Homo sapiens: one gene and its partners. The protein of the gene in region 2 purifies or fractionates together with the protein of the main gene of each other region. This does not show direct contact. Each region holds a gene or a part of one and is shown on either strand. Other genes may lie near its edges.

Region 1 (9,860 bases), on a different chromosome or scaffold from region 2:
AAATCACTTCACAACTTAGCCGCAAATGACAGCAATCATTGCATTAAGTCTCATGGTTGCTGTGGGCTGGGATTTGAAGAAAGGCGTGGCTGGTTTGTTTTGGCTCAGGATGCAAACAAACAGTGCAATCAGTGATGCTTGCCACAGGGCGGCTGGGGGTGCTGGACAAGTGGGCATCTCTCTGTGGTCTCAGGGCCTCCCCCACCATATAGTCTCTGCACTGGCCAGCTTGGGCTTCCCCACAGCATGGCTGCCTCAAGGTAGTCAAACTTTATATGGCCGCTGAAGACCCAGGCAGAAGCTGCATGGCCTTTTCTAGCTCATTTTGGGAGTTCCGCAACTTCACTTCAGCTGAATTCTGTTGGTTGTATGCAAGTCACCAAACTGCACAGATTTGAGAGGAGGGTGCCATAGACCCCAGCTCTTGATGGAAAGAGTATCAAGCTCTCATTGTGGAAACACACATGGGATGAAAGACACTGTCACAACATGGCAAAACCCCATTCCTACAAAAAAAAAAAAATTAACTAGGAGTGGTGGTGCACACCTGTACTCACAGCTACCCAGGAGGCTGAGGTGAGAGGATCACTTGAGCCCTGGAGGACGAGGCTGCAGTGAGCCATGATCATGCCATTGCACTCCAACCTGGGTGACAGAGCAAGACCCTGTCTCAAAAAGAAAAAAGAAAGAGATTGTTGTAGCCGTCTTTGGAAAACAGAATCTGTCCCAGCTGCCATGCATGGCTGGAAGAGGTGGCCAATTCCTGATATTCAAAAGTGTGGAAGGATTTGCCAAGCTTAAGTCACCTTAGCTCCAACAGATGCAGGAAAGCAAACATCCATTCTTGTTGGCTTCAAGAGTGGGCAACAGAGGCTTTCAGACAGTAGGAATTTCCTTAAATGTGGGAAGGAGCTGCAGATGCTAGGTAATCCTTCCCGCAAAATATGTACTATAGCCCGCTCCTTTGGTTTTTTTTGTTGTGTTTTGTTTTTTAGACAAGGTCTCACTCTTTCACCCAGGCTGGAGTGTAGTAGCACGATCTTGGCTCATTGCAGCCTTGATCTCCCCAGTTCAAGCGATCCTCCCACCTCAGCCTCCTGAGTAGCTGGGACTACGAGCACAAACCACCACCACCCCCGGTTAATATGTATTTTTTGTAGATACAGGGTTTTGCCATGTTGCCCAGGCTGGTCCCAAATTCCTGGGCTCAAGCGATCCACCTGCCTCAGCCTCCCAAAGTGCTGGGATTGTAGGTATGAGCCACCACAGCTGGCTTTGAATGTTCAATATCAATAGGCCCTTTGCAGAAGTTCTTATCGAAACTTTCCCCGCACAACCGTCTCTCATTGTACAATCAAAAAATGCATTCACACTGCCACCCAATACAAAAAATTTCAATAGTTCCATTTTCCAGATCTGAGACTGGAATCAGGGAAGAACCATTCCCCTCCAAATATGTCATTCTCCCCATATTCCACAAGCTGTGAGCTAGTTGTAAAGTTAATCGTCACACACTGTGTGAAAAATAATGGGAAAAAAGGTCAAGAAAAGATAAGTCAGCCAGGCACTGTGGCTTCCGCCTGTAATCCCAACATTTTGGGAGGCTGAGGCTGGTGGATCACCTGAGGTTAGGGGTTCGAAACCAGCCTGGCCAACATGGTGAAACCCTGTCTCTACTAAAAACACAAAATTAGCCGGGCATGGTGGCGCATGCCTGTAATCCCAGCTACTTGGGAGGCTGAGGCAGGAGAATTGCTTGAACCTGGGAGGCGGAGGTTGCAGTGAGCCAAGATCACGCCATTGCATTCCAGCCTGGGCAACAAGAGTGAAACTCTGTCTCAAAAACAATGAAAAGGTAAGTCTGGCCAACCGTGGTGGCCCACACCTATAATCCCAGCACTTTGGGAGGCTGAGGTAGGAGGATCGCTTGAGCCCAGAGTTTCAGAAAAGATAAGCCTTGTTAGTTAAAATATGTGAGGATATACACCTGCGGCCGCATGGATGGAATTAGAACTTTTTTTTTTTTTTTTTTTTTTTTTGATACTGAGTCTCGCTCTGTCACCCAGGCTGGGGTGCAATGGCATGATCTCAGCTCACTGCAACCTCCACCTCCTAGGTTCAAGCAATTCTCCTGCCTCAGCCTCCCGAGTAGCTGGGATTACAGGCACCTGCCACAACCCCTGGCTAATTTTTTTATTTTAAGTAGAGAGGGGGTTTCACCATTTTGGCCAGGCTGGTCTCAAACTCCTGACCTCGGGTGATCCACCCACCTCGGCCTCCCAAAGTGCTGGGATTGCAGGCATGGGCCACCATGACTGGCCATTTTTATATTTTTTTGTAGAGACGGGGTTTCGCTATGTTGCCCAGGCTGGTCTCAAACTCCCGGGCTCAAGCAGTCCTCCCGCCTCAGGCTCCTAAATTGCTGGGATTACAGACGTGAGTCCCTGCGGCTGACCTGGACCTCAGCTTTTACCCTAAGTGAGACAGAAGTCATGGGAGGACCCTGGGGCAGAAGAGTGACATGAGTTGATTCACATGTAAAAGGAATCCTTCAGGCTGTTTTGTGAGAATAAATTACAGGGGACAAAGGCAGATGATGTTACAAGACTAGTTTCTGCAAGTCTGCAAGGGTCCACGGCTGCTGTTTTGGTGTTTCTGACTTTTCTCCTTCATACACATGCCATAGAGTTCTCCTCCCTCACCCAGAACCTCAGATGGCTAGGTTCTTCTTTTTTTTTTTTTTTTTTTTGAGACAGAATTTCACTCTTGTTGCCCAGGCAACATCGTGCAGTGGCACGATCTCAGCTCAGTGCAACCTCCACCTCCCAGATTCAAGCGATTCTCCTGCCTTAGCCTCCTGAGTAGCTGAGATTACAGGCATGTGCCACCACGCCCAGCTAATTTTGTATTTTTAGTAGAGATGCGGTTTCACCATGTTGGTCAGGCTGGTCTCGAACTCCTGACCTCAGGTGATCCACCCACCTCGGCCTCCTAAAGTGCTGGGATTACAGGCATGAGCCACAGCGCCCAGCCTCAGCTGGCTGGGTTCTTGAGGGAGGTGGAAGTGGGCGATGGCTGCTGAGAGGGCATGTACCAGGGTCCAGCCCAAACAGAAGGTGCACAGGCTGGGGACAGAAGAGCTAGGGTATGGGTGTCGGTGCTCACAGTGTGTGAGCTTGACAGCACCTGGGACTGTCTTGGAGTGCCGCCGCATTCCCCATGAGTGAGTTTGTATTGTATATCCTGGGATGCTCCAGTCTGGATGGAATCTGCACGTGAGTTTGTGTGCCTTGCAAACAAACCTTCCCTGAGCACCTGCACTGTGTCTGGTCTTGTGCTGGGCGGGGTGCCCAGGGGAGGAGCCCTTAGCTCACCACAGTGATCAAGACATCCCTGGCCCTGCCCTCACAGGCTCACAGTCCACTGAGGGAGACAGACCTATCCCCAGCCAGGGACCCCCAGAGTGTGCCGGGCTCAGGTGGGGGAGCCCAGAGGGGGAACCTGACCCAGCCAGGGAAGGCAGAGGGGACTTCCTGGAGGAGGGGATGGTACAGTTAATCCTAAAAGGTCTTTCCCAATGTAACAGTTGCTCTGTAGGATGGATGCAGTGGCTCATGCCTGTAATCCCAGCACTTTGGAAGGCAGGAGGATCACTTGAGCCCAAGAGTTGGAGACCAGCCTGGGCAACATAGTAATACCCTGTTTCTATTACCAAAAAAATACAAAAATTAGCTGGACATGGTAACACAAGCCTATAGTCCCAGCTACTTGGGAGGCTGAAGTGGAAGGATTGCTTGAGCCCAGGCGGTTGAGGTTTGAATGAGCTATGATTGCGCCCACTGCATTCCCGGCTGGGCAACAGAGCGAGACCCTGTCAAAAACAAAACAAACAAACAAAAAAAACGTTGGTCTCCTGTATGACCAATGGATAAAGTAACCTTGACCAGTCTAATAACTCCCAGGCTGACCTGTAATCCAAGCCTTCTCTGTATGTCTGAGCAGGCAAAGCCCAGCTCCAGGGCTACCTCAACCCCCAGGCTGATCAGAAGCTTGGGTAACCTCTCCCAGTGTGGCCAGCGACCCCCCACCCTCCCACGTTCTGACCACTGTCCTGGGCAACTAGTGACATCTAGTGGGGGATTTTGTCCCAGTCTGACCTGGCCTGTAGGGGCCTTGGGCAGTCGGACCTGTGACCCACGCTTCCTAGCAGTGGCTGGACTCCTCCCCCTTCCCGCAGGTGCCCTGGCCTCTTCCCCTGCCCTCCTCACCTGCTCTGGCCAGTCTGACTCCTCCCTTCCCCACAAGGTTGGGAGGGAATGAAGGAGAGAGCGGGAAGGAGGAAGGGAGGGTGGCATTCCTGGGATTCCCTGGATAGGGGGAAGAGTGGGAGGGCCTTCCATGGGTGAGCAAGCAGAGAGGGCACCCCGTACCCCACCCCCAGCCCCATCATCGAAGCGGCCTAGGAGGACCTGGATTTGAAGACCATTGAAAATAAGAGATTAAACCGGTTGATTCCAGGCTACTGGTCAGACGAGGAAAGCAGCCCAGAGCACTGACCACAGGGGAAAACATCTCCGGGCATACTGGGAGCAGCTGCTGGGGGCCACTGGTCAGGCTGCGGGGGTCACTGGTTGGACTGGGAGAGGCCAGTGCAGGCCACTCGGACGGCACGCTTGGGGCCATTAGTTACACTGGGAGAGGCCATCGCAGGCCACAGGTTGCAGTGGGGTCCTCTGGTTAAAATCGACGATGCCAGCCCAGGCTGCTGGTCACAGTGGGGACGAGTCCCCAAGGCCCCTGGTCAGAATAACGAGGAGAAGGTCCGCGATTGCCTGGTGAGATCCCAGCTCGGGTCACTGGCTACGCTGGTCGATCAGGCCCCCCGCTGCAGGCGCTGGTCAGTAAGCCCGGACAGCTCTAGGCTTGGGGGCGGACGAGCCCCGAGCCTGGCCCCGTGCACTGGGAGGTCCGCTCCGGGCAGTGGGAGGTCCTGGCCCCGCGCCCGGGCATCGGGGGACGAGGGGGGCCTGGAGGGCGGGGCGGGGCGGGGCTGCCGGGGGCGGGGCCTCTGGCTCCCAGCCCCGCAGCGGCCGAGCTGCAGCCCGGGCTCAGTCTCCGCCGCCGCCGTGAACATGGAGCCCCCGGACGCACCGGCCCAGGCGCGCGGGGCCCCGCGGCTGCTGTTGCTCGCAGTCCTGCTGGCGGCGCACCCAGGTATGGCTCGGGCTGAGGGCAAGGTGGGACTGGGGAGAGGCCCCTGGGGACCCCGGGAAAGCGAGGAGAAAGGGCTTTACCCTGACCCCAGGAAGCAAAATGTGGGGACCCCAAGGAGGAGGGATATGGGAGTGTTGGAAGGTACGCCTTCCAGTGAGAGAGATCTGGGGACAGCCAGGCAGGAGAGCTGGGGATACCCAGGCGGTGGATCAGAGACAACCAGAGAAGTCAGCCCCCTTCCCACTCAGCACCCTGGAATCTGGGTCCCACCTGCCTCCTCCCTCAGACCCTGGAATCTGGGCCCCCAGCCCCTCTTTCCTCAGACCCAGGAGTCCAGGCCTCCAGTGGCTAGAATAGCTTCCCCCAGGGCACAGAGGATCAAAACCCCAGGGCTCTCTCCCTCAAAGGTCCTCAAGTTTTGAGAGGTCCAGGGACCCCTTAGAGAAGCGAGGACCATGTGTCCCCACACCAGCGATCCACATGTATTTAGGAGTTTCCAGAGTCCAGTATAAAGAACCCGCCTCCCTCAGGAAAGGGCTGGAGCACCAGCCCCGGGCAGTGACAGTGGAACAAAGTGTTTCCAAGTGACAGGCCCCCTTCCTGGGGCCTCAGCTACATTTACACACCTGCATGAGGATAGAAGGAGAGGAGGCCGGGGGCTGGGGGGTGGGGGTGGGGGTGCTGGGGACAGAGGGACAGAGAGATGAGAGAGATTGGGGAAGAGAGAGGAACTCTCTGCCTCCACTTGTCTGCAGATCAGACCCAGCCTTAGGCACCAGCCTGGACCCCGTCACCCCTCCCTGGGGACAGGCTGGGGCCAGAGGTGAGCGCTTGGGAATCCAGGCCCCTGGCACACTCATGGTCAACAGTGGGTCCCCAGGGGTAGGGCTGGGCCAGATTGAGCAGAGAAGGGAAGGGAGTTTCTAAGAAGCACTGAGAGCTGATGCCAGGATGCCAGCCCAGAGGGTGAGGGAGGGTGGTGGTTTTTCTACAATAACTACTCCACCAGGCCCCAGCCTCCTCTTCCCTCTGATCCCAGGAGTCCAGGTGCCCAGCTTCCCAAGATCCTGGGCCTCAACCTTATCCTTTTGCAAGATGACTCGACTTATCCCGTTTGCTGTTGTATCAAACTGAGGGGGGCCAAGAGGCGGCTGGGGGCTCTGGCTCCAGGCCGGGCAGGTCTCAGCCAGCCTGTCCCTCCCACATTCCTGAAACCTGCCCAGCCCTGTCCCCCCTCACCGCCCCCACACATCCATCCCGCCTAAGCTCCGGGCCCAGCCGCAGCCCACACCCCAGCCCCTCACTCATGGGAGAGCGGAAGAGACCCAGGGACTGAGTGGTGCAGGTGCAGAGAGAGGCAGAGACAGGGACAGAGATGGAGACCCAAGAGGAGAGACACACGCAAAGGTGGAGACCAGGATGGAGAGAAACATTTATCCATCATCACAGAGGTGGCCCTGCCCAGGGTGCTGGAGGCAAATGGCTGAGCCAGGCCTGGCCCTGCCCTGGGGGGTGGCGTGTGCTCTGTTGGGATAAGCAAAGGCTGGTGCAGTATTACCCCAGGAGTGTTCAGCGGAGGCCACAGGGCCCTGTGCAGCCCAGAGGAGGAGCCCTGAGCTCTGCAAGTGCAGGGAGAGATGGATTTGAGACCCAGAGATGCAGGGAGAAGGGATGGAGGGCGAAAGGATCTCAGGGAGGAGGGGCTGGGGCCTAGACTCCTGGGTCTGAGGGAGGAGGGGCTGGGGCCTGGACTCCTGGGTCTGAGGGAGGAGGGGCTGGGGCCTAGACTCCTGGGTCTGAGGGAGGAGGGGCTGGGGCCTAGACTCCTGAGTCTGAGGGAGGAGGGGACAGGGGCCCAGATTCCTGGGTCTGAGGGAGGAGGGGCTGGCACCTGGACTCCTGGGTCTGAGGGAGGAGGGGCTGGGACCTGGACGCTTGTGTCCTGGGGGAGAGGGGACCCTGTCTGGAGGGCTCTTCCTGTTGGTGTGGTGGATGATAGCTCAGTTGCTCTCTTGCAGATGCCCAGGCGGAGGTGCGCTTGTCTGTACCCCCGCTGGTGGAGGTGATGCGAGGAAAGTCTGTCATTCTGGACTGCACCCCTACGGGAACCCACGACCATTATATGCTGGAATGGTTCCTTGTGAGTGCTTGGGGCTGGGGGGCCTGGAGTCAGGGCACAGCAGGGCAGCAAAGGTTCATTCTCTCATCAGTGCCTAAGGCCTGTAGAGATCCACCAAGCCACACTCCTTGTTACAGATGGGGTCACTGAGTCCCACTGAGGGGAAGGGATCTGCAAGGTGCCCCGTGTCTAGGCACAGCCAAGTCTAGAATGACATTGACCTGCTCTGGACTGCGGGCTCTTGAGAGAGAGAACAGAGACAGACATCAAGAAAGCAGAAGCCAGGCACGGTGGCTCACGCCTGTAATCCCAGCACTTTGGGAGGCCGAGGCGGGTGGATCACGAGGTCAAGAGATCAAGACTGTCCTGACCAACATGGTGAAACCCCGTCTCTACTAAAAATACAAAAATTAGCTGGGCGTGATGGCATGTGCCTGTAATCCCAGCTACTCAGGAGGCTGAGGCAGGAGAATCGCTTGAACCTGGGAGGTAGAGGTTGCAGTGAGCCGAGATCGAGCCAATGCTCTCCAGCCAGGCGACAGAGCAAGACTCTATCTCAAAAAAAAAGAGGAAAGAAAATGAGAGACAATCGGGAGAGGGAGAGACCAAGAGGAGAAGGGATGGGACCGGAATGAGATGGAGAAAAGGAGACAGGAAAAATCAAGAACTGATAGGGAATGGGGGCAGGAGAAGGTGGGGAGGGACAGAGGGACCAGGGAGACCCATAACAAGAGGAAAAGAGGCAGAGCCAGGAGCTGCAGAGAGAAAGGACCCAGAGAGAGAGAGACTGAGGAGCGCTGGGACACCCGGAGCTGAGAGCCTGCCCCGCGCCCACAGACCGACCGCTCGGGAGCTCGCCCCCGCCTAGCCTCGGCTGAGATGCAGGGCTCTGAGCTCCAGGTCACAATGCACGACACCCGGGGCCGCAGTCCCCCATACCAGCTGGACTCCCAGGGGCGCCTGGTGCTGGCTGAGGCCCAGGTGGGCGACGAGCGAGACTACGTGTGCGTGGTGAGGGCAGGGGCGGCAGGCACTGCTGAGGCCACTGCGCGGCTCAACGTGTTTGGTAAGTGTCCTCGGGCATCCCCCGAAGGGAGGCAGGCAGGGAGGGGCGCAGGGCAGGGGCTCCTGACGTGAACGTCTTTTTCACAGCAAAGCCAGAGGCCACTGAGGTCTCCCCCAACAAAGGGACACTGTCTGTGATGGAGGACTCTGCCCAGGAGGTACCTCTCGGGTGGACCTTGGCCCCAGGGTCCTGGAGGAGGAGGGGACAGGGCCCTGGACTCCTGGGTCTGAGGGAGGAGGGGCTGGGGACCCCTGGGTAATAAAGGAGGAGGGGTAAGGCCAGGCGAGGTGGCTCATGCCTGTAATCCCAGCATTTTGGGAGGCAGAGGCAGGCGGATCACCTGAGGTCAGGAGTTCCAGACCAGCCTGGCCAACATAATGAAACCCCGTCTCTACTAAAGATACAAAAATTAGCTGGGTGTGTTGGTGTGCAACTGTAATCCCAGCTGCTCGGGAGGCTGAGACAGGAGAATCACTCGAACCCAGAAGGCAGAGGCTACAGTGAGCTAAGATCACACCACTGCACTCCAGCCTGGGCCACAGAGCAATACTCCGTCTCAAAAAAAAAAAAAAAAAGAAGAAGAAAAGAAAAAAGAAAGGAAGGGCAGAGGGGGAAGACTCCTGTGTCCTAGGAAGGAGAGAGCTGGGGGACCCAGAATCCTTGGTCCCTGGAGGATGGTGCTGGAGGCCTGGACTCTTTAGTCTGAGTCGGGGACTAGGAATTTGGACTCCTGGGTCCTGGGAGAGTCGGGAGTTAGGAGCCCGGCTCATGAGTCTGAGTGGGGAGAACTCCTGAGAGAGGAGCCCCGACTTCAGAGTCCCAGCTCCAAGCCCAGGGCCATGCCCGTGTCTGCCTCAGATCGCCACCTGCAACAGCCGGAACGGGAACCCGGCCCCCAAGATCACGTGGTATCGCAACGGGCAGCGCCTGGAGGTGCCCGTAGAGATGAACCCAGGTGAGCAGCGCAGGAGCGCGGCGGGACGTGGGCTGGGGTGGGTGGCGGGGCTATGGCCTGGCTGACTGCCACCTCCCCCGATCTCTCCCAGAGGGCTACATGACCAGCCGCACGGTCCGGGAGGCCTCGGGCCTGCTCTCCCTCACCAGCACCCTCTACCTGCGGCTCCGCAAGGATGACCGAGACGCCAGCTTCCACTGCGCCGCCCACTACAGCCTGCCCGAGGGCCGCCACGGCCGCCTGGACAGCCCCACCTTCCACCTCACCCTGCACTGTGAGTCTGTGCTGGCCTTTGACCTCTGACCTCAGGCTCCACACCTCATGAGGCCTGACCCTCCACCCGGGGGCTTCACACTCCCCTCTGACCCTCTGCCTCCCTACTTCATGCTAAAAAAAAATGTGCTAGTGCTGGCCACTGACCTCTGACCTCAATTGGTCGCACAAGCCCCATCCTGACCTCTGACCTCCGACCTCCACTTAGCACCCTGGACCCCATGAAGTTTATG
Region 2 (9,879 bases):
CAGGAAAAGCAGCCTTCGAAGGCAGTGGTTGATGAAAAATGGGTCCAGGCCTTTCTTATCTAGCATATCTCTCAGAAGATTTATAGAAGGGAAGACTTAGAACTGTAAATCCACCTAAATACTTGTCAGGCTGAAGGACCTCAGGAAAGAATCCATCACTTGGCATTGCAGCTACAGTTTAGGGAGAGTGTGATGGCAGTTGTGTAACCACAGGACTCTCAGCTCCTACATGGATGAATGTAGCTTTTGGGTGACCCAGAGACCACTCCTCCACCACCCAGAAGTCTTTTGGTTCTTGTACTGCCTAGTTCTCTAGATTTATGAGTGAACAAGTTTTCTTTCTGGATTAGAAGCTTCTTAACGGCAGTTTACAACTACATATCATGTATTCTCAGCATGCACAAACGGCTGCTAATTGCTTACGGAAAAATTGCTGAGTGTCCCCCACCTTTCTCTACTTATGTCTATGAAACCACTATTTTCCCAGGTTTCTCATCTTGGAATTGCTGTTTCATCATTCCTGATTTCATCTTCAAACGCTAGACCTTAGATGATTGATTTCTCTTTTGGCAGTGTCATCTCTGTAGGATAAGGCCTCATTCCTGAGTTGTCAAACATGCCCACCTTCATCTCTCCCTATTCCAATGCAACTTCCACAAAGCGTAACACAAGACTTTGGATGCTTGTTCAGCATCCTACAACAAATGGGGTCTTACAGGTTTCTTCCAAACTGCACAGTATCATTTCTTGTGTTTCTTAATCGCCTATCATAGCTCTGTGTCTCCTTCCTACACAAAGCCTGCCCAGTTAGGTAGCTTGTTTCTTGACCCTGAATTTGCCACTCACATGCCCACTCAAGAATAGCCCTGGCTTTTCTAGAGGGAACATCCACTCTTATTGCAAACCCTGGCTAAGGCCAAGTTCAAATCTTTCCTCTTTTGCTTGCTTTGGCCCATGCACCCTCCCTTTTTCCTGTTATCATAAAGAAAATAGACTTATAAAAGATTTTAAAATTCTTGAGGTCAAGGACTGTTTGATACTGTTCTTGGATGGTCTCAAGCAAAATACAGGGTATGCAAATGCAAAGTATAGGGTTTGAACCTGATTACACTGCACACTACCCTCATGTCTCCTTCCTGATGCAGAAGTCACACCCACTAATCCTGTGGGGTTGGAAAAGAGCTGTGTTACCTATAGGGGGATAACAGCCCCTTTATGGCCAATTGGAAAACAGGCCAGCCTCTAATTCTCCTGAGAGAATCCAGCGGCAGCAGTGTTTTCTTCCTTTTCTTATGTTACATTAAGTTTCGTTCTGAAGAATCTGGTTACCACCTTCTCTATTCCCCAAATTTGGACAGACTTATGATAACTGCTTCCCTCTCGACTGCTCTTAAAGACAGATTTAATTAATTTTTAAGCACTCACTATATGTCAGGCTGTGTTCCTGGAACTTTCCTGAGTGCCCTCACAATCCTAACACAATTCTTGGGAAATAGTGCTTTCTTTTTATGGTTTAAATCAACAGAGAGCAAGAGGTTAAGTAAGTCTCAGCATAGCCAGGTAGAGAGACAGGCCCAGGACTCAGACCCAGGTGGACTGCTTCTAAGCTCCTTCTCTTTCATATGGAAAGGAAGTCTCTCCCAAGACAGCTAGTAATAACTAGCTGATCTGCTTGGTTTCTAGTACTAATCCTGGGCAGCTCTTTGATTGAAAAAAAGTGAATGTTTTGTTAAGGTCCAGATCACTCTGATAGTTCACAGCTCTACTCCTGCATTCCTGTAAAGTAAAGGTACATCTATCCGCACTGAGAAGCTCCTTGAGCCATAAGAAAGTTAAGTCTTCTCAAGAATTCTCTTTAGCGCTGGGCTATTTTGGTTTAGCTTCTTTATTTAAGGCAGGATTTCTTAATCTAGGCACTACTAACATTTTGGATTGGATAATTCTTTGTTGGGTGGGGAGGAGGGAACTGTCCTGTTTACTGTAGGATGTTTAACAAGCAGCATCCCTGGTCTCTATCCACAGGATGTTTAAGTAGCAACCTCCCACCCAGTTGTGAAGACCAAAAATGTCTCCTGACATTGCAAAATATTGCCTGGGGGAAAAAATTTCCCTGGGTTGAGAACCACTGGTTTAACAGAGGAACTAGAAGGTGTTACTTGCCTGTGGATTTCCATGATTTCCTCAGCAATCATTCGGCCTATTTTTCCTGCCCCAGCCCGGGTTCCCCCTGGAATCCCTGGAACAGTGGGGTGGGTCCTCTTTGGGCCACCTACAACAAAGGAATCTGAGAGTAGGAAAGGGGAAAACTGAGGAAGAAATACTATTATGTATTAAAGTAAAACCAGTTTATCCCATGATCCATTTGCAGTTCAACATCAGAGTTGTGCCTTGAGGGACTTTAGGGCTACAGCTTGTCAGGAAAAGGCATTCCAGCAGGGAAAGGCTCAAGTTTCCTTCTAGGATCTGAGGCCAGTTTTTTCCCTTCATACAGCATCTAATTCTTTCCCTTCATGCACTGAAAAAAAACGTTTATTGAAGACCACTGTATGTGCCAGGGTTACAGAGACAAGTCCCTGCCCTCAAGGAGCTCACAGTTTAACAGGAAAACCAACAAGATGAACAATGGCTAAAGCAAAATGTTGTAAGTTTGACAGGCAAGCACGAGGCAACCAACTCATCTGGGGCCAGGTGCAGCTTCTGGAGCAAGTTAACCCCGAGCTGAGTCTTGAGAGATGAATATGAATTAGCTTGGCAGAGAGGTAAGGAGGAGAAAGCATTCCAGGCACAGCAACCAACACGTGCAGGAGCACTGAGGCAGGTTAAAACTTGGGAGACTCCTCCAAGGAATTCATCATAAATGATGATGAGAGCATGATAGATGAAACTGGGGCAGCAGGTACCAATCCGATCATGAGGGGCCTCTTGGATGCCGTACTAACGAATTTGGACAGTTTCCACAAGGGAATGAGGAGTACCAAAGGACGATACACAGAAAAGGCACAAATGAGAACTGGGTTATTAGAAAGTCCACGGCAGGGAGAATGAACTACAATGGAGGATGGGGTGGGGAGAGGGGGACTAGAGTTGCGAAGTGATTTGCAATAATCCAGGCAGCAGATGAGGAGGGTGAAATAGCAATAGTGGTGACGAAGTTTAAGAGATAGAAGGTTCAGGACTCCGTGTTTAGATATAATGGGGGAGAGACAACAGCCAGGTTTCTGGCTTAAACAACCAATCAGGTAGGGGAGTGCAGAAAATCAGCTTGGGATATTCTGAATTTCAGGTGCCTCTGAGACTCCAGGTGGTTCTGTCTATGAGGCATTTGGAGAGACAGATCTGGAGCTCGGGAGAGAGACTGGGCCAGGAGATGTGGATGTGGGAGTCATCGATGGGGGCTGCAGCCATGCATGTGGGGATGGTCCCAGGAAGGATGAGTCCAGCGTGGACAGCAGGGGCAGGGCCAAGGCTGAGCCTGAGAAGGGAGCCCAGTGGGTATGGTACACACCCTGGTGCCGAAAGACACCTGCCTGCCAACCACAGGAGTTAGTGACAGTCACGAAAGAGCACTTCACATCATGGCCACTAGCCAACACAGGAGGAAAGCACAAGGGGAGTAGGGAGTTTGCGAGCTCAAGGGCTTCCAGGGGCCAGCAGCTTTGGGAAGTGCAGCAGTGAGCTCCTAGTATTCCGGCTCAACAGAGAAAGTGACATGACAGTGTCCTCTGCATTCATGGGGAAATCCGCACATCATCCCCTCGAGGCCTCCCTTGTTCCACAGAATATGAATGGAGGGGACCCTGAATACTTTAGGGGAGGATATTTGACCACAAGCACCTTCCCACGGGCAAGCCCCAGGGCCCCAGCAGCACATAGTTACCTTCTCCAGAGGGCAGCATGCTGTCCATGCTGTGGGGGGATGCTGTGAGCTGTGGGAAGGTTGGGTCCCCGCCTTCCAGGACGTTGGCTCTGTGAACATCCCAGCAATAAGGAAACGTGAGTCAGGCCTGCTCAGAACTGTGCACCATTCAACTTGGCCAAGGTGTCCGGTGTCCACTCTGGACCTGGACAGGCCAGAAAATGAAGTGTCTGTCTGAGTGGGTAAACAGGTCTCACTGTTTGATAATATAATGGATAGCATCCTGGCCTTTGGCCCCACTGCCTGCCTAGGCCTTCCTAATATGTGTGGGACACAGTTCAGCAGAGGTGGTGGCTGCAGTAACCTACTGCCATCATTACAGCACCTCCTCCTGCCAGCCTGCAGTGCACCTAGCCCCGGCCCCTCACACAGCTCTTACCATAGGTGGGGTTTTGGACACTATGGGGAAGGAAAAGTGGGGAGCAGGCCTGGCCAAAGAGAGGCTCCTTCACCTCCCTCTGCTCATCTAGCAGGTAGCAGCCTTTTGAGATGGCATTCCAGCTGCCAGTGCTTGGGCCCCCTGCCTGACAGGTATGGAGACCTCCCCATCCTCAGCCAAGGCCAGTGTGAGCTAGTGCCTGAATGAGCCTTTCATAGATTGCCAACCCCTTCCTCCACAGCAGCACAAGTGGATGCCTAGGGTGCAGGGCCTGTGGAATTCAAAGGTTAGCTGCTTTATCTGGAAGGAAATGTTGCTATTTCCTGGAGCAGTTTCATAAGCCAGGGCCTGCATGGTACAAGTCCTGAAGCTTGTCCCTTTGTTAACAATCCTTTCTAGCTTCTGCCAGTCCTGAGGCTTCACAGGTATTAGCAAGATGGCATTAAAGGATGTGATACTGGATGTTGCCTGCACCCCATTTCCCAGATGAGGAACCCTAGGCATCTGTTTGAAGCAAGGGGAGCTTCAGATATAGGAAAAGTACTTACAAAACAACAGTGTTAGTTGAGACAATATATTCTACTTCCTTGGTCCAAGGGTTCATGAAACTGAACCATCGACTCCGTAGTGTGATAAAAGAACCATCTTTGATTTTAAATTTATAGCAATTAGTTGTAATTTTTTCTCTCGTCTGTAAAACTGAAAATGTAAAGAAAACATGGACATTGTTGTTTTCTCAGACCAAAGTATTAAACAGGACATCCAATACAAAATATTAAAGGTACTTGAGCTCCAACGACATCGCTCTTTAGTAAGCCAAGGAAACTGCAGTGGTCAACACTCAGGAAATAGGTTGTTTCTGAGGGTCTAACTCAGAGCCTTTCAATTCATTTGTGAAGCTGTCATGATTTTCCATAGTCTGTAAAATTGAGGCTCTAGGGAATTACTGACTGCATGTTATACATCTAACTGGAATCAGCTCTAACATGACCACCAGCAAATGAGAAGGCACTGTCCAAAATGTCATGCTTTATCTCAATCACAAAGCCCAAGGGCAATATAGAACTTATCTCATTTCTAAGAACATCCAAATCAACAGAGGCTACTCACCTATTCAACCTCATTCTTTCATGTAACATGTAATGAGCCCTTCTCATGTGCCAGGCACTGGAGATACAAGAGGAGACAGGCTATGACTCCTGCCCTCAAGAAGAGTAGTGAGGGAAGGCTATACAGGGAGAAGAGATCAGAGCCTTGAGGGATGAACACGAGTTTGCCAAGAGAAGGAGGGAGGGAAGAACCCAGCAGTGCCTGAGGAGCAGCAGGGTCTGGTTGGGGAGAGGCCAGTGAGGTCAGTGTGCCTGGAGCACAGGCCTCTGCAGGCAGGGATGGGGACTGAAACTGAGGAGGTGGGCTGGGGCCAGAAGGTGGAAGGTCTCACATTTGATTGCCTGTCAAAAGCATTTGGGCTTGAGTCTAAAGCAGGAGGTTTTTAAGCAGGCTGATGTTACCAGGCTCAATCTATCTGGGGATAAATAGGATAACTATGGAAGATGAACTGGGGGTGAGAGGGATCAGAGAAACCCTGAGAAGTCTATCACAGGTCTCTAAGTAGGCACGAGGGCCTGAACCAGGGTGATGGCAGAGGTGGTAAAAAGTAGACTTTTGGAAATGCATGTCTGAGGTGAATGAACAGGATCTGGTGGAGACACAGTGAAAGAAGGGGTCAATGTTGGTCTCTCTCAGGAGCCTGCACATGAAGCCACAGCATTAGTCAAGACAGAAAACACAGGAGGTAGTGCAGGCTTGAATGGAAAAGAGAATCAGATCAGTCTGGGCCATACTAAATCTTTACAGGGTCTGGGAAAACCCTCTGAACAAGAGATGTCTTTCAGAAACTGCCATGCAGTCAGCACAGGGCAACTACAAGGGGGATAAACAGTGCCTGCAGGTATCAGCTTCCTCTTCACACAGATGTTCTGACCTGAAGAGTCCTAGGCTGGCTGACTCTACATCCTCAGTGGACAGATTTCCCTGGAAGGTCATGTTGACTAGTCTAGAAGCAAGGGGACACTTTCAACTTAAGATCTTTCATACATCCTAGCTTACCTTGCCTATGACATTCTGCAAGATGTCCTATGTCATCTTGGTGAAAATATTCATAACACGATGTGCCTAGAAGTTCTTGTGGTAAATATGCCAAAATAGCTGTTGCCCTAAAAGGGAATAAAGGAATATTTAAAGAAGAAAAAGCCATTCAGATGATTAATTGCAACTTTGCAATGGATAAACCCTGCTACAGCCTATGAGAGCAAGGTCAAAGCTGCAGGCAAAAGAGCTGGATGGATTTTCAGAGGGCTCACTGTGTGGATCTTTCTCTCTTTTTTTCAGGCATCTGAATTTAATCAAGGCTATAAAAATAGAGGGAAACAGAGCAAAGCCTTTGTAAAGGGACTATTATCACAAGAAATCAAATCTGAGGGGGCTTTAAAAATTGCAACCAGTCGGGCATGGTGGTTCATGCCTGTCATCCCAGCACTTTGGGAGGCCGAGTTGGGCAGATTGTCTGAGCTCAGGAATTCAAGATTAGCTTGGGCAACATGGTGAAACCCTGTCTTTACCAAAAACACAGAACAATGAGCTGGGTATGGTGGCACATGCCTATGGTCACAGCTACCTGGGAGGCTGAGGTGGGAGGACTGCTTGAGCCCGGGAGGTCAAGGCTACAGTAAGCCAAGATCTCGCCACTGCACTAGATCTAGCCTGGGTGACAGACTGAGATCTGTCTTTAAAAAAGGAACCACATTAATTAGATTAAAATGTGGTATAAATCTAAACCTCAGTGCAAGGCTTCTAGTTTTTGCTGCCTCCTTTTTATCAGGACAACCAAATGCCAGAAGCTGCAGCAGCTGAGGCCACAAGACAGCTGAGGCTGTCTCTTTTTCCAGCATGTTGTGGCTGTCTCTAGTAGCCAGAAAAATTATTAGCCTGTGCATATTCTGAGGGAAAGCAGTAGGCAGCAGTAAATTTGGGACACCTGGGTCCTTGGTCCAGGTCTATTACCAATTAATTGTGAATCCTACAGGAGACCAGTCCCCAGGCTGGCCTCTGTTCTTCATCCATAAAATAAGGAGGTTGGATTAGATCAACGCTGTCCAACAAGACTTTCTGTGATGATGGAAATGTTCTATGTCTGTGCCGTTAGCCACATGGGAGGCTACCATGGCCAACGAGTATTTTATTGGACAGCTCAGGACTAAATAATTGCTTCCAAGTCCTAGATTCAAAAGAATTTCAATCACAATAATGGTTCTGGAACATTCCATAGATTCAGACAGCATGCTATCCCTACTGTTTTTCTTTTAGCCATGGACATCAAGGCACCCCACTTAATTGTCTCTATATGCCAAAGAATGACAGAAAAATCTCTGTATTTATGATGATATCCTATTGAATCTCATTTTTTAACAGAGACTCTCATCATTTGTCTCTTTTTTTTTGAAACAGGGTCTCACTCTGTTGCCCAGGCGGAAGTGCAGTGGTGCAATCACAGCTCACTGCAGCCTTGACCTCCCGAGGCTCAGCTGATCCTCCTGCTTCAGCCTCCAGAGTAGATGGGACTACAGGTATGTGTCACCATGCCTGGCTAATTTTTGTATTTTTAGTTGAGACAGGGTTTTGCCACGTTGCCCAGGCTAGTCTCAAACTCCTGGGCTCAAGTGATCCACCCACCTTGGCCTCAAAAAGTGCTGGGATTTGAGGTGTGAGCCACTGCACCCAGCTTTTTCTTTCTTTCTTCATTCTTAGAAAAGCCAGCTGATGGCCCAGTCTTCTCTGCTTTTTAGATCAGGGTTGAAAATCCTCTACCATCATTGCTCAAGGGTAGTATGTAGACTCTTACCTCTGGTCTACAAAAACAAACTTTCCATCTATCGCGTGCCGAGAAACATATTCCATAGATTTCACCCTGATTTCCCCGTTCACTGGTTGTGGAACTACATGAGAATGCAGTCGTCCAATTGCGACGAGGCAGCTGAGGTTACACCCCTCATTGTCTGGTTCGTTGTCTTCATCCAGCCCCATCTTTGTGGGTGGCCAGCTTTTCAAATAGCCTGTGCTGTGGATTGTGCAGAAGCTTTTTCGATCTGCTAGAAAGCAAAGTTCGTGGTTAGTGTCAGCACTAGGTTTGGGCCATGGAGGTGTACACGGCCGATGGTGGGATGGGATGTAGGTAGGGAGTCAAAAAATAAAAAAAAATCAAGGCTTCACTCTCCAGAAGTAAGCATCTAATGAAAGGGGCAGACGGAAAGAGAAACAAACTGTCATCCAGTGTCAGAATGCTTAAGTAGGGCCAGTTATACCATGGACATTCATTACATACACCAAGGAAGGAATATCTAACTCTTCCTAGGGAGAGGAAGGCTCCCCCAAAAAACCAGTAGAGGAGGTGGATCAAGAAGGATGAGCAGTGGCTGAGGGACTAGAATGTATAAAGGCTGATGACGTACACAGGCACAGAGGCACAGCCTATATAGGAACTGGCCAAGAGCTCTGTGTGGTTGAAGTGAAATTGGAGGTACTGGGAGTGAGGGGCAAATTGGAAAGGCAGGTTGGAGGAAGATTAAAAGGGCCTTGGATTACTTTCTAACCAATGTTGGTCTGTCTTTTTAAGGCAGGAAATGGAGAGCATCTACAGGTATTTAAGTGCAGAAACAGCAAAATCAAATTGTGGTTTGGATGCTGTAGGAGCAGAGTGACGTATGAACTGGAAGACAGTAGAAAACAGAAGTAGGAAGGCTGATTCAGGGGCCAGTGGCTATAATACAGCAAGAGATTAGGAGGACTGAACTATGGCAGTGCAGTGAAGATGAGAGGGAGCAGAGAAAGAAAGCAGGAGAAATTTCTGAGATCAAACTGTTGGGATTTGCTGTGAATATCAGGCTTAAGGGAAAGAAACAAATGAAGATGACTCTAACTTTTCTGGATTGGGTGGTTGCTGGTGTCATTCACTGACTCAGAGAAGAAAGAAAACAGACTAGAAGAGAGAGAGAGAAAAAAGATAGTTCGATTTGGGACACATTAAATGTGGAGCACCTATAGACTTCACCAACAAGCAAACCACTATGGAGTGTCTGCCAAGCGTGGAGTCTGTGCTGGTTACTGGAATAGAGTGAAAAACAAATCAGACATGCCCTTGTGGAGTTTACAGCCTAGTGGGGGAGACAGACTTTAAACAAATAATCGCACAAATAACTATATAACAGCAAGTATAAGAAAGCACTAGAAAGCAAACCAGTAGGGTGCTATAAGACATAAGGCAGTCTGAGGTTGGAGAGAGCCATGTGAAGGGAGTTCATGGGGAGAGGGAAGAAATTCCAACCAGGAAGCGACAGCATGTGCAGAAGCATTGCCCAGAAGGGGCTTGAGGCATCAAAGGAAGTCAACATGGCTCACATGTGCTTAGTGGCAGGGTCGGGGGCTGCATGGTCACGTTAAATATTTTGAGCTTTTCTTCAAGAACAATAGGGAACACTGAAGGGTTTTTAAAAGGGGACTGATAAAAAGATCATCCTGGCTGCTGTGT
Region 3 (10,487 bases), about 53 Mb from region 2:
AATTAACAGGCAGGTGTCTCCTCCTGACCCTGGACCTCCCAGGATGCACCTGGTCTCAGCTCTGCAACCTCGTGCCGGCACCAGGCCTGGCCGGAGAGGGCGCTGTGCCTTCTTCGGTCCTTCCTCTTTGGTGTTCTTCGTGTCAGCGTCTCTAGCTTGTCCCCAGTGGCCTAAGCCTGTGGGACTGGCCACAGAGCGGGCGCCCATTCCTACCAGGCGCTGCGCAGCATGCCAGCCTACCTCCCCAGTTCTCCATGCTGAAGAGCTTGCTGAAGTTGTGGGCAACATAGGGGGCGATCTTTTTGAGATCGTGGGTGCGCACACGAGTGGCCAGCAGTGACTGGTGGGCGTCCCTGAAGGTCGTGTCCATCAGCAGCAGCCCCGGGTGGTTCCGCACAGCTCGAGCAAAGCCCTCAGGCCCCTCTCGCAGCAGGATGTCTCTGAAACCAGCCGGGGGCGGGCCTAGGGTAGACAGGGGCATTGGTGCCCATCCTGCAGGTGGCAACCTCCTGTCTCCCCCATGAGTTGACAGAATGGATCTCACCTACCTATGGGCACTGCAGGGACAACGGGGTCCGTGGGGCTGGGGCTGGCCTTGACGGGAATCGGGGTGGTTGGACCGTTTACCATGACATGGCCTGGGGAGAAAGCGGGCAGTGGGTCAGGGTGGGCTGGGCAGAGGCTGAGTCGAGGGCAGCAGTGAGAGTGGCTGGGCTCAGGGACAGGGACACATCCCTCCAGGATCCCCGGGCTTCCAGCTGGCCCCTGTCCTCTCCAAAGCCAGGGCCTCCTGGGTACAGGCAGTGGGGACGTCTTGAGGACCACGTGGATGGAAAGGTGGGGTCTCTCAGATCAGAAGCAAGGAGAGCAGTGAATGGCAGGGTGCAGGACAAGAGGACGCAGGGCCAGAATGAGGGCAGGGGTGAGGGGCAGGGGGCACTAAGGAGTTCTTTGGTCATGGGGAGTGGCAAGGAGGTAGGAGCAAGAGATTGGAGAGCGGAGGGGAGGGGAGGGCAGGGCAGGGCAGTCTCGGGCCAGACCGAGGTAGTGCAACAGCTTTTGGGCCCGGTTCTGTGCAGGCCGCAGCTGGAACAGCTCTGGGTTCTCGTCGATGAACTGGGTGTCCACAGTGCCTGCCAGGAACTGCTGGTTGTTGAGCACATTCTGCAGGAAGGCGATGTTGGTCTGCAGGACAGAGGCGGGTGGGAGGGGGTCACCATGCAGCACAGACAGGGAAGGCAGAGGAGAAAAGGCTGAAAGAGAAAAGGCTGAAGATGCTGCCCTGGGCCAGCACAGCTTCTGGGCCTCCCTGCAGAGGGGCACTTCCCCGTCCCTCAGCCCTCTCCTCACTCCAGCAGAGCCCCCTAAGCTGTCACGGGCTGGGCCTGCTCCCTCCATACTTGTTTACACCAAAGCATGTGCTGAAGGCCACCCTTCCTGCCTCCCCGCAGCCTAGAACAGGGCTCAGCCTTTTTCTCCAGCAGCGTGGCCCACAGCAGTCACCCTTGCCCCTCGTCCACGCTTCTCGAAAGAGGGCCTTGACCGCAACAGACCACACTCTGGCACTCTAAGTCACTCCTCCCAGCTGAGTCCAGCGGGCATGCTCCCGCCTTGCTGCTCGTTCCCTGGGCTTCCAAGCCATCTTGCTCTCCTGTCCTCTTCCTCCCCAGCTCCTCACACACCACATGCTCCCCAGGAGGCCCCGTCCCGGGGCTGTGGCGCCAGTGACAGGCTCTGCCTCCAGGGCAAGACCCAGAGGTGCAACTGCCTCCCGGGCCTTTCCTTGTTCACCCCTCGCATAAGTTCAGCAAGTCCACGGCCAGCTTCCTGCCTATGCACCCAGTCCTCCTGTGCCCAGTGGGTGCCCCACTGTCCCCCCAGTTACCAAAACCTGCATCCCATCACCCTCATCACCCACTCCTCCCATGCCACTGGTCAAGCCAGAGGATTCGACCACGGCCATTTTGGGACCTTGTGACCTCTTCTCCATCTCCAGGCCACACCCTCCACCGCCTTCCTCATTGTGGCCACCTCCAGCCACATCAAACTTGCCTTGCGCTCCACACCTTTGCACCTGCCTGGGAAGCTCTCCCTGAACTTCTCAAGGGCCTTCGCCCTGTCCTCACACCCTCGGCAGAGCTGACACTCACCTTTCCAGCAGTCCCCTGAGGAACCCGCTGTGGGCAAGCACACCCATCGGCTTCATCCTCTGCTTGTCTGCCTGGGAACCCTTGGGGGCAGGGTGCTGCCTGAGGCATGTGTCAGTGCACTTTGTGCACAGGGGCCCTCGGTTCCACTCATTAAATGCCTGGGTGACAACATGAGGCTGGGCCAGGGTGAGTATGACTTAAACGGGGACATGCGAGCCAGCACTGTGACAGGTGCTCCAAGACCTGTGAAAGCATGGCCTGTGGCTGTGTAGCGACAGCCCTGGCTTCCACCGCGAAGAAAACACCTCCACGCGTCACTTATTCATGATCCCTGTCGGCACCTTCAACAGGGACTCAAGGCCACCCAGACTCCTCTGAGCTCTCCGTCTCTTAGGCTCCTATTACCTGGAGGCCTGGACAGGAAGGGTGCCTCCCCCACCAGCCTGTCAGGTGCTCACCACAGAGTGGGACCCCGCCAGCAGTGCTGTGCCTGTCTGCCCCTGAGCCTCGCCCCTGCCTCTCCTGAAGAGATGCTGACATTTCAGCTGGGCCAAGGCATGGCACTGGAGAAGGGAGGCAGCTAATGAAACCATCCAAAGAGCCCCGAGCGCGCAGAGTGAGAAGGACCCTTGGAGGCCTTCGCCCTGTCCTCACACCCTCGGCAGAGCTGATGCTCACCTTTCCAGCAGGCCGCTGAGGAACCTGCACGGGCAGGGCTGAGCGCAGACCCACACTGTTGCTGGGACCCTTGTGTTCACAGACACACGCTGAAGGTCATAACCGTTCTGCATCACCGAGTCATGTGGAGGGTCCCCACTGAGTCTCCCCTTTGTGACTGTCGGGTTGCCCATCCTCTCCTCCATACTGTAAGCTCTATGGGGGCAGGAACCAGGCCCATCTGGTTCCTGATGAACCCGGCTCCCAGCACTGGGTGGCCATGGTGGATGCTGGTAAACATCTATATTTAGAGTGAATGAAAACTTTTTTTTTGAGACAAAGTGTGTCGCCCAGGCTGGAATTCAGTGGCACAATCTCAGCTCACTGCAACCTGTGGCTCCCTGGTTAATGCGATTCTCGTGCCTCATCCCAACAGACATGCGGTACCACGCCCGGCTAATTTTTGTATTTTTAATAGAGATGGGGTTTCGCCATGTTTGCCAGGCTGGTCTGGAACTCCTGGCCTCAAGTGATCCACCCGCCTCGGCCTCCCAAACTGCTGGGATTACAGGCATGAACCACTGCACCCGGTGGAAAACATTTTTGATGGGGAGAAGAGGAACAAAGACATAGCTGGTGCCACTGCACATCAGAGTTGACCTGCACCAGGACTGAATCCCCCTCATTTTACAAACGCCACAGCTGAGGCCCAGTGAGTGGTGACAGAATGGCTTCTGGCTGCCTGTAAGCCCCTCACAAGCTGCAGCTGTCCTCCCCTCTCGCCCCTAGGAAATGCTTATGTATGTACCATCCAACTCTCCTGGCCTACAGGAGGAACTTGTTTTCAGTGGTCAGGTAACGTGCCCAGGACTACACTGCTGTGCTGACAGGATCAGAATTCCAATCTTGGGTTTCCCCGAGTTTCCTGCCACCTGGCCCATGGGGATCAGGGCTGGAGGGAGAACGAGGATGGCTGAGGTTTAGGTGGCTTAAGGACCAGGAGACACGGGGAGGTGGTGACTTCCTGTTTCCCAACTGGGCAGACCACTGGTGGTGGCGGGCACAGCTGGAAGGAAACCAGGCTCGCCGAGCCACCGAAGCCCCAGCTTTCTCAACCAGGAAGCAAAGAACCTCCCCCACCTCACGCCGGGAGCCCTTTCTCTGAGAGGAGCTGGTTCCGAGCCGCTCTTCCAGGGAAATGGCCCGGCGGCGACAGAGCGGGAGGGAGGGGCCGCAGGCGCTGCGAGGACGCACAGCTTCCCAATGCGTGCCCCCGGCGGTTGGGAAGCCGCGCCGCGCAGACCAATCCGGCCCGAGGCGGAGGCCGGTTGGCTCCGGAACGCCTGGCCCGCGGGGCGGGCGGGGCAGCTGGGGAGGGAGGGAGAGGCGAGAGGCAGCTGGGGACAGGGCGGGGCGGCGGGGGCGGGGCGCCTGCCCGGAGGCCAAGCCCTCTCGGCCCCACCCCGCAGCAGCCCTGCCAGGGGCGCCGCCCCAGCCCCCCCCACGGCCGAACCCCGTGCCGGTTGGGGACCCTCCACGTGACTCGGTGATGCAGAACGGTTATGACCTTCAGCGTGTGTCTGTGAACGCAAGGGTCCCAGCAACAGTGCGGGTTTGCGCTCGGCCCTGCCCGTGGGTGCAGGGACGTGTGGGTGTGTGGGCATGTGTGGGTGTGTTGGGGAGGGTGCCCAGCGACATGTGACAAAGACGCCCGTCTCCGGGAGATGGTGAAGGGGCCCGCGAGCAGGCGCTTTGTCTGGCTGTCTGCAGAGTGAGGTTCGCGCCGCGGCGGCGGGCGCCCGTGCGGTGCAGGATGCCGGGGCGCCAGGATGGCCGGGGGCGCGCGCGCCTGTGCCAGGGTGAGTGCGCTGCGGCAGCGCCGGGGGACAGCGCGGAGGGCCCGCGCCGGCCCGGGCCTCGGGCGTGACTGGGCGCCACCCGTGGGCGCTGCAGCGGCCGCGTGTCCCCGTGACCTCAGGAGCCGGCCCGGGCCCGGGTGGATCCCCGCGCGCCCCTCCCCGTCCGCCCTCCACGTGCGTGTCCGCGGCGCGCGCGCCCGCCGGCGCGCACCCGCTCGCCTGTCGCCGCCGCCACCGCTAACCGCGCCGGGAAAAGGTGCCGGGAACCGAGCGAGCCGGGGCCGCGGGCCCGAGCGCCATGGGCCCGAGGGTGGGCGGCGGGCGGCCGGTCATCCCCGGGCCTCGTCCCCGCGGGAGAGCGGCCAGGAGTCGGCGGGGGCCGGCCGGGCTCGCAGGGAGGCCGGCCCGCGCCCCCTGAGCGACGGACACCAGGTGAGGGGGCCGCCGGGCGCAGCGCGGGGGCCGGCCAGGGAGGGGCCACGGACTCCACGGGAGGTTCGGGGGGCGCCTTCTCTGGCGGGGGAGGGTATGGCGGGGAGTGGGGAGGCGGCTGGCGATTCCTGGGGACGCCTGGGAAAGGAAGTTCCGGGACCCTCCCTGCTCTCGGTCCTCCTCCGCTTCCTGCCTCATGCCTCACCTTGTCCCCAGCGCCTGGACTCCCCCTTAACTGCTTGGGAAATGTGACCTTTGCTCTGGGGGGCCTGGCCCTGCAGGCCCCAACCTTCCCTCATCTCTGGCGGCCCTCTTGGGCCTCTGACCCAGCCCCTCCCCGGGCCAGGCTCACAGAAGCTGGCTTCTGGGACTGTCCTGGGCCCAAGTGGGCACCTGCGCCAGCCCCACCTGTGCCTGGGCTGTGGCCCCTTCCTACAGGGCGCTCACCATGGCCCCGCCGCTCCTGCTGCTGCTGCTGGCCAGTGGAGCGGCCGCCTGCCCGCTGCCCTGCGTCTGCCAGAACCTGTCCGAGTCGCTCAGCACCCTCTGTGCCCACCGAGGCCTGCTGTTTGTGCCGCCCAACGTGGACCGGCGCACAGTGGAGCTGCGGCTGGCTGACAACTTCATCCAGGCCCTGGGGCCCCCTGACTTCCGCAACATGACGGGACTGGTGGACCTGACACTGTCTCGCAATGCCATCACCCGCATTGGGGCCCGCGCCTTTGGGGACCTCGAGAGCCTGCGTTCCCTCCACCTTGACGGCAACAGGCTGGTGGAGCTGGGCACCGGGAGCCTCCGGGGCCCCGTCAATCTGCAGCACCTCATCCTCAGCGGCAACCAGCTGGGCCGCATCGCGCCGGGAGCCTTCGACGACTTCCTAGAGAGCCTGGAGGACCTGGACCTGTCCTACAACAACCTCCGGCAGGTGCCCTGGGCCGGCATCGGCGCCATGCCTGCCCTGCACACCCTCAACCTGGACCATAACCTTATTGACGCACTGCCCCCAGGCGCCTTCGCCCAGCTCGGTCAGCTCTCCCGCCTGGACCTCACCTCCAACCGCCTGGCCACGCTGGCTCCGGACCCGCTTTTCTCTCGTGGGCGTGATGCAGAGGCCTCTCCCGCCCCCCTGGTGCTGAGCTTTAGCGGGAACCCCCTGCACTGCAACTGTGAGCTGCTGTGGCTGCGGCGGCTGGCGCGGCCGGACGACCTGGAAACGTGCGCCTCCCCGCCCGGCCTGGCCGGCCGCTACTTCTGGGCAGTGCCCGAGGGCGAGTTCTCCTGTGAGCCGCCCCTCATTGCCCGCCACACGCAGCGCCTCTGGGTGCTGGAAGGCCAGCGGGCCACGCTGCGGTGCCGGGCCCTGGGTGACCCCGCGCCTACCATGCACTGGGTCGGTCCTGACGACCGGTTGGTTGGCAACTCCTCCCGAGCCCGGGCTTTCCCCAACGGGACCTTAGAGATTGGGGTGACCGGCGCTGGGGACGCTGGGGGCTACACCTGCATCGCCACCAACCCTGCTGGTGAGGCCACAGCCCGAGTAGAACTGCGGGTGCTGGCCTTGCCCCATGGTGGGAACAGCAGTGCCGAGGGGGGCCGCCCCGGGCCCTCGGACATCGCCGCCTCCGCTCGCACTGCTGCCGAGGGTGAGGGGACGCTGGAGTCTGAGCCAGCCGTGCAGGTGACGGAGGTGACCGCCACCTCAGGGCTGGTGAGCTGGGGTCCCGGGCGGCCAGCCGACCCAGTGTGGATGTTCCAAATCCAGTACAACAGCAGCGAAGATGAGACCCTCATCTACCGGTGAGGATGCGTGCCCCACACCCGGCTGCACTCCCGGCGCCCTTCCTCCGCCCTCTGCTCCCCACAAGGCTTTGCTTCCACCCCTCCTCTCTCTGGGGCTGACACCCCCTCCCCGACCATGGCTGCTGGACTCTTGGAGGAGCAGTGGCCTGGCCTGGCCTGGCTGCCTGAGGGGGCTGGAGCTCAAGGGGCGGCAGAAGGACCCCACCCCGAGATGTCCCAGGTGTCACTGAGCTGTGCAGGCCTCCCCGGCAGCAGGTGGCGGTTGGGTCTGTCTGAAGCACATGGCCCGCGCCCGCGTGTTATTTCTGCCTCTGCTGGTGCCATCCCCCCACCCCATTCCCCTCGCTTGCCTGCGTCCTGTGCCAGTGCACACACCCATCTCCTGGCCACACTCTCCAGCCTGTTCACCTTCCTGAGTGAACCCAAGAGCCCGAGTGGCCCCAGGGGGAGGGGTGTTTGGAGCTGGGAGCACGGGAGTGGGGAGGTGAGGATGGGGCTAGACCCCAGCCCCGGGCTCTGACCACCTGCCCTTGCCTGCAGGATTGTCCCAGCCTCCAGCCACCACTTCCTGCTGAAGCACCTCGTCCCCGGCGCTGACTATGACCTCTGCCTGCTGGCCTTGTCACCGGCCGCTGGGCCCTCTGACCTCACGGCCACCAGGCTGCTGGGCTGTGCCCATTTCTCCACGCTGCCGGCCTCGCCCCTGTGCCACGCCCTGCAGGCCCACGTGCTGGGCGGGACCCTGACCGTGGCCGTGGGGGGTGTGCTGGTGGCTGCCTTACTGGTCTTCACTGTGGCCTTGCTGGTTCGGGGCCGGGGGGCCGGAAATGGCCGCCTCCCCCTCAAGCTCAGCCACGTCCAGTCCCAGACCAATGGAGGCCCCAGCCCCACACCCAAGGCCCACCCGCCGCGGAGCCCCCCGCCCCGGCCGCAGCGCAGCTGCTCTCTGGACCTGGGAGATGCCGGGTGCTACGGTTATGCCAGGCGCCTGGGAGGAGCTTGGGCCCGACGGAGCCACTCTGTGCATGGGGGGCTGCTCGGGGCAGGGTGCCGGGGGGTAGGAGGCAGCGCCGAGCGGCTGGAAGAGAGTGTGGTGTGATGGACGGGCAGCTTCCTGTGTGCTCCAAGGGATGAGCCTCGTGGGGCAGAGGGCCCGGGGCCGCCGCCTGGCCTGGGAGTCCCTCCCTGGTTTTTATTCTCAGTACCTCAGGCTCCCCTGTGTACTTGGAGGGGCAGGGAGCCCTTTCCTCGGTTCTGGCCTCCAGACCAGGGTAAGGGCAGGCCCCTCCAACAGGTGCTCACAGCCACCGAGGCAGGGGCTGCAGCCACCCACTGGGAGTCTTGTTTTTATTTATAATAAAATTGTTGGGGACACCTCAGTGCTAGTCTCTGGTGTTGTCTGGCTAGGTCCCCCGAGACGGGAGGACAGGACACGGGCCGCTGGTGGCACACGGACAAGGGTGGGGCTACCAGGGCCGGTGGGGGCAGTCACAGCAGCCTGGGGCCTCCTGGCTTCCTGTCCACAGGGGCGGCCCAGGGCTGCGGCCAAGGGCTGTGCCTGGTGTCTTCTGACCTGCAAGAGCATGGGCTTGGGCAGGCGGCCTACCCTCGCCTGTAAGTGCAAAGAACGCCCCTTCCTGCCAGGTGGCGACAGGACGCCGTATCCAGTGTAAAGCCTGGGGAGCACGTGTGAGCGCCTTCCCCATGGCACTTCAGGGTCTGCGGGGCGGACACAGGACTGGACTAAGCAACAGGAGGAGGTGGGGGACGGTACAGCCCTCTGGGAGAACGGACCTGGGCTGAGCGTACAGTGAAAAGTCCTCATGGCTCCAGGTGCTGACAGCTGTGTCTGCCACCTCCCAGGGCATCTTGTGGACTGGTAAAACGCCATCCCAAAGGGACTGGAAGGGCAGGGAACCCCACTGCTCTGCCATCAGCCCGTGATCCTCTGGAAGGTTCCTGTCAGAACTGTGGGTCCGAGCAGGACCGCAGCTGCCAGCTCAGATGTGCTCTGGGCCTTCCTGGGAAGGCGGCCTTCGCCCTCCCTCGCTGCAGGGAGGCAGCCGGATGGGCACGAGCCCTGCTTTCTCTGCTAGGACCCCTGGCCAGGCCCGGGCAGCCTCCGACCTGGCCCAGCCCCTGCAGCCTCCTGAACTATCTGCTTCTAGGCACTGGCTGGGGGGCATGGGCAGACGTGGCCCTCAGCCCTGCAGAGGGTCAAGCTCCCCCAGGTGCTGTATGAAAACTCAGAAGGCGGCCCTGGCACCCCAGGCCACGGCAAACACGCTGCACAGACTCCCTGGTGTTTTCTGTGTGAGGGCCAAGGCGCTGCCACCGGGCAGCCGAGGTGAGGCAGGTGCTCTAAGGCATACGTGTGTTCACGTGTGCATGGACCTGGCTCACACGCGTGTGCCTGCCCTCCCAGCCCCAGAACATGCAGCTAGAGGTGGGCTTCGAGAGCCTGGTTTAGATGAATGGGAGCAAGGTCCTCGACAGAGAAGGGTGTGGGGAGCGAACGCCATGGAGGAGTGGGCGGGGGCGCGGGACAGGGTGGGTGGGCACAGACGGCAAAGGGACAGGAGGGCCAGGGCTGCCACGCTGGGCGCTAGCATGAGGCTCAGGAGGCGGCTAGAGCCAGCGGCCTGGTCTTGGTGCACATTTGGGGAGGACTTGGCACCCCCAGACACCAGAGACACTTATCCTGCTGCTGGCCCCGTGGTCACGGTCTCTAGTGCCCCTTTCTCCACCTGGGGGGCGGGGGACGGTCTAAAGAGGAAGATCTTTCCGGGCCCTCCAGGGTGCAGAAGCCCACCTCTAGCTGCACCCCTAGCAGGCGCAAGGTTCTAGGGCCCAGGGACCAGCTTGGCACGTGGGGAGCTGCTGAGGGTGAGGAGGGAGCAGAGGAACCGGGCACAACCCCAGGAGCCAGCCAGGACCACAGAGCAACGGGCAGGGGCAGGCGAGGGGGATGGCCTGGGTCACCCCTGTGCATGGCCACGCATCCCCTCAACACCGAAGCAGCCGCAGGACATCCCCGCCAGGACACCAGGAGCCGCAGCAAGGTGCAGGGGGAGCGCGTGATGTCGACAGCTGATGTCGCGACACACCTCTGCCTATGTGCACGACAGGGACCCCCAACAGGGAGGCTGAGAGGCTCCCCACGGAAGAGTAACACCCCCTGGCCTCTAGGAAGTGCGCTGTTCCCTCTTAAGGTGGGAGACAGGCTGGCCACACACACAGGCATAGGCCCAGAAGCCTCCAGGGGCTCTTGCGACCAAGCAGCCATGTGGACATGTGAGAAGTGATTGCAGGACCCTGAGGGGACAGCACGGCCCACATGCCCCCCCATCCCCCAAGCAACTGCGCCTCGATGACAGGCAGGGCTGGAAGAAGCTGCAAGGAGGACACGAGGCCAAGGCAGAGGGGCCGGTGCCAGTGCCCAGCACAGCCCGCCCTGTGGGGACCCCCAAGAAGAAGATGGGGTGGTAACTCCCACAGGGGCTGAGGGCCAAAGCCCCTGTCCTCCGGCTCTTCTTGCCATTCTGAGGGTGGCTCCCACGGGACACGTGCTGGCTTCAAAGGCCGAGGC

What was found.
Region 1: the proteins of BMAL1 (region 2) and BCAM purify together in Homo sapiens (affinity purification with mass spectrometry; 2 studies listed by BioGRID and IntAct, with this or other methods). This does not show direct contact.
Region 3: the proteins of BMAL1 (region 2) and LRFN4 purify together in Homo sapiens (affinity purification with mass spectrometry; 2 studies listed by BioGRID and IntAct, with this or other methods). This does not show direct contact.

What each region holds. Positions count from the first base shown.
Region 1 is NC_000019.10:44,803,993-44,813,852, forward strand, and holds the start of BCAM (basal cell adhesion molecule isoform 1 precursor), read left to right. Parts: upstream 1-5,110; 5' UTR 5,111-5,132; coding exon 5,133-5,214; intron 5,215-7,232; coding exon 7,233-7,354; intron 7,355-8,170; coding exon 8,171-8,399; intron 8,400-8,485; coding exon 8,486-8,556; intron 8,557-9,257; coding exon 9,258-9,354; intron 9,355-9,445; coding exon 9,446-9,628; intron 9,629-9,860. UniProt on the Homo sapiens protein: Transmembrane glycoprotein that functions as both a receptor and an adhesion molecule playing a crucial role in cell adhesion, motility, migration and invasion.
Region 2 is NC_000011.10:13,370,727-13,380,605, reverse strand, and holds part of BMAL1 (basic helix-loop-helix ARNT-like protein 1), read right to left. Parts: intron 8,444-9,879; coding exon 8,197-8,443; intron 6,512-8,196; coding exon 6,405-6,511; intron 4,995-6,404; coding exon 4,844-4,994; intron 4,062-4,843; coding exon of another isoform or gene 3,967-4,061; coding exon 3,878-3,966; intron 2,285-3,877; coding exon of another isoform or gene 2,270-2,284; coding exon 2,161-2,269; intron 1-2,160. UniProt on the Homo sapiens protein: Transcriptional activator which forms a core component of the circadian clock.
Region 3 is NC_000011.10:66,852,199-66,862,685, forward strand, and holds LRFN4 (leucine-rich repeat and fibronectin type-III domain-containing protein 4 precursor), read left to right. Parts: upstream 1-4,865; 5' UTR 4,866-5,546; coding exon 5,547-6,895; intron 6,896-7,438; coding exon 7,439-7,997; 3' UTR 7,998-8,277; downstream 8,278-10,487. Other genes in the region: PC (pyruvate carboxylase, mitochondrial precursor), read right to left, coding at 241-462, 549-638, 1,041-1,185. UniProt on the Homo sapiens protein: Promotes neurite outgrowth in hippocampal neurons. May play a role in redistributing DLG4 to the cell periphery.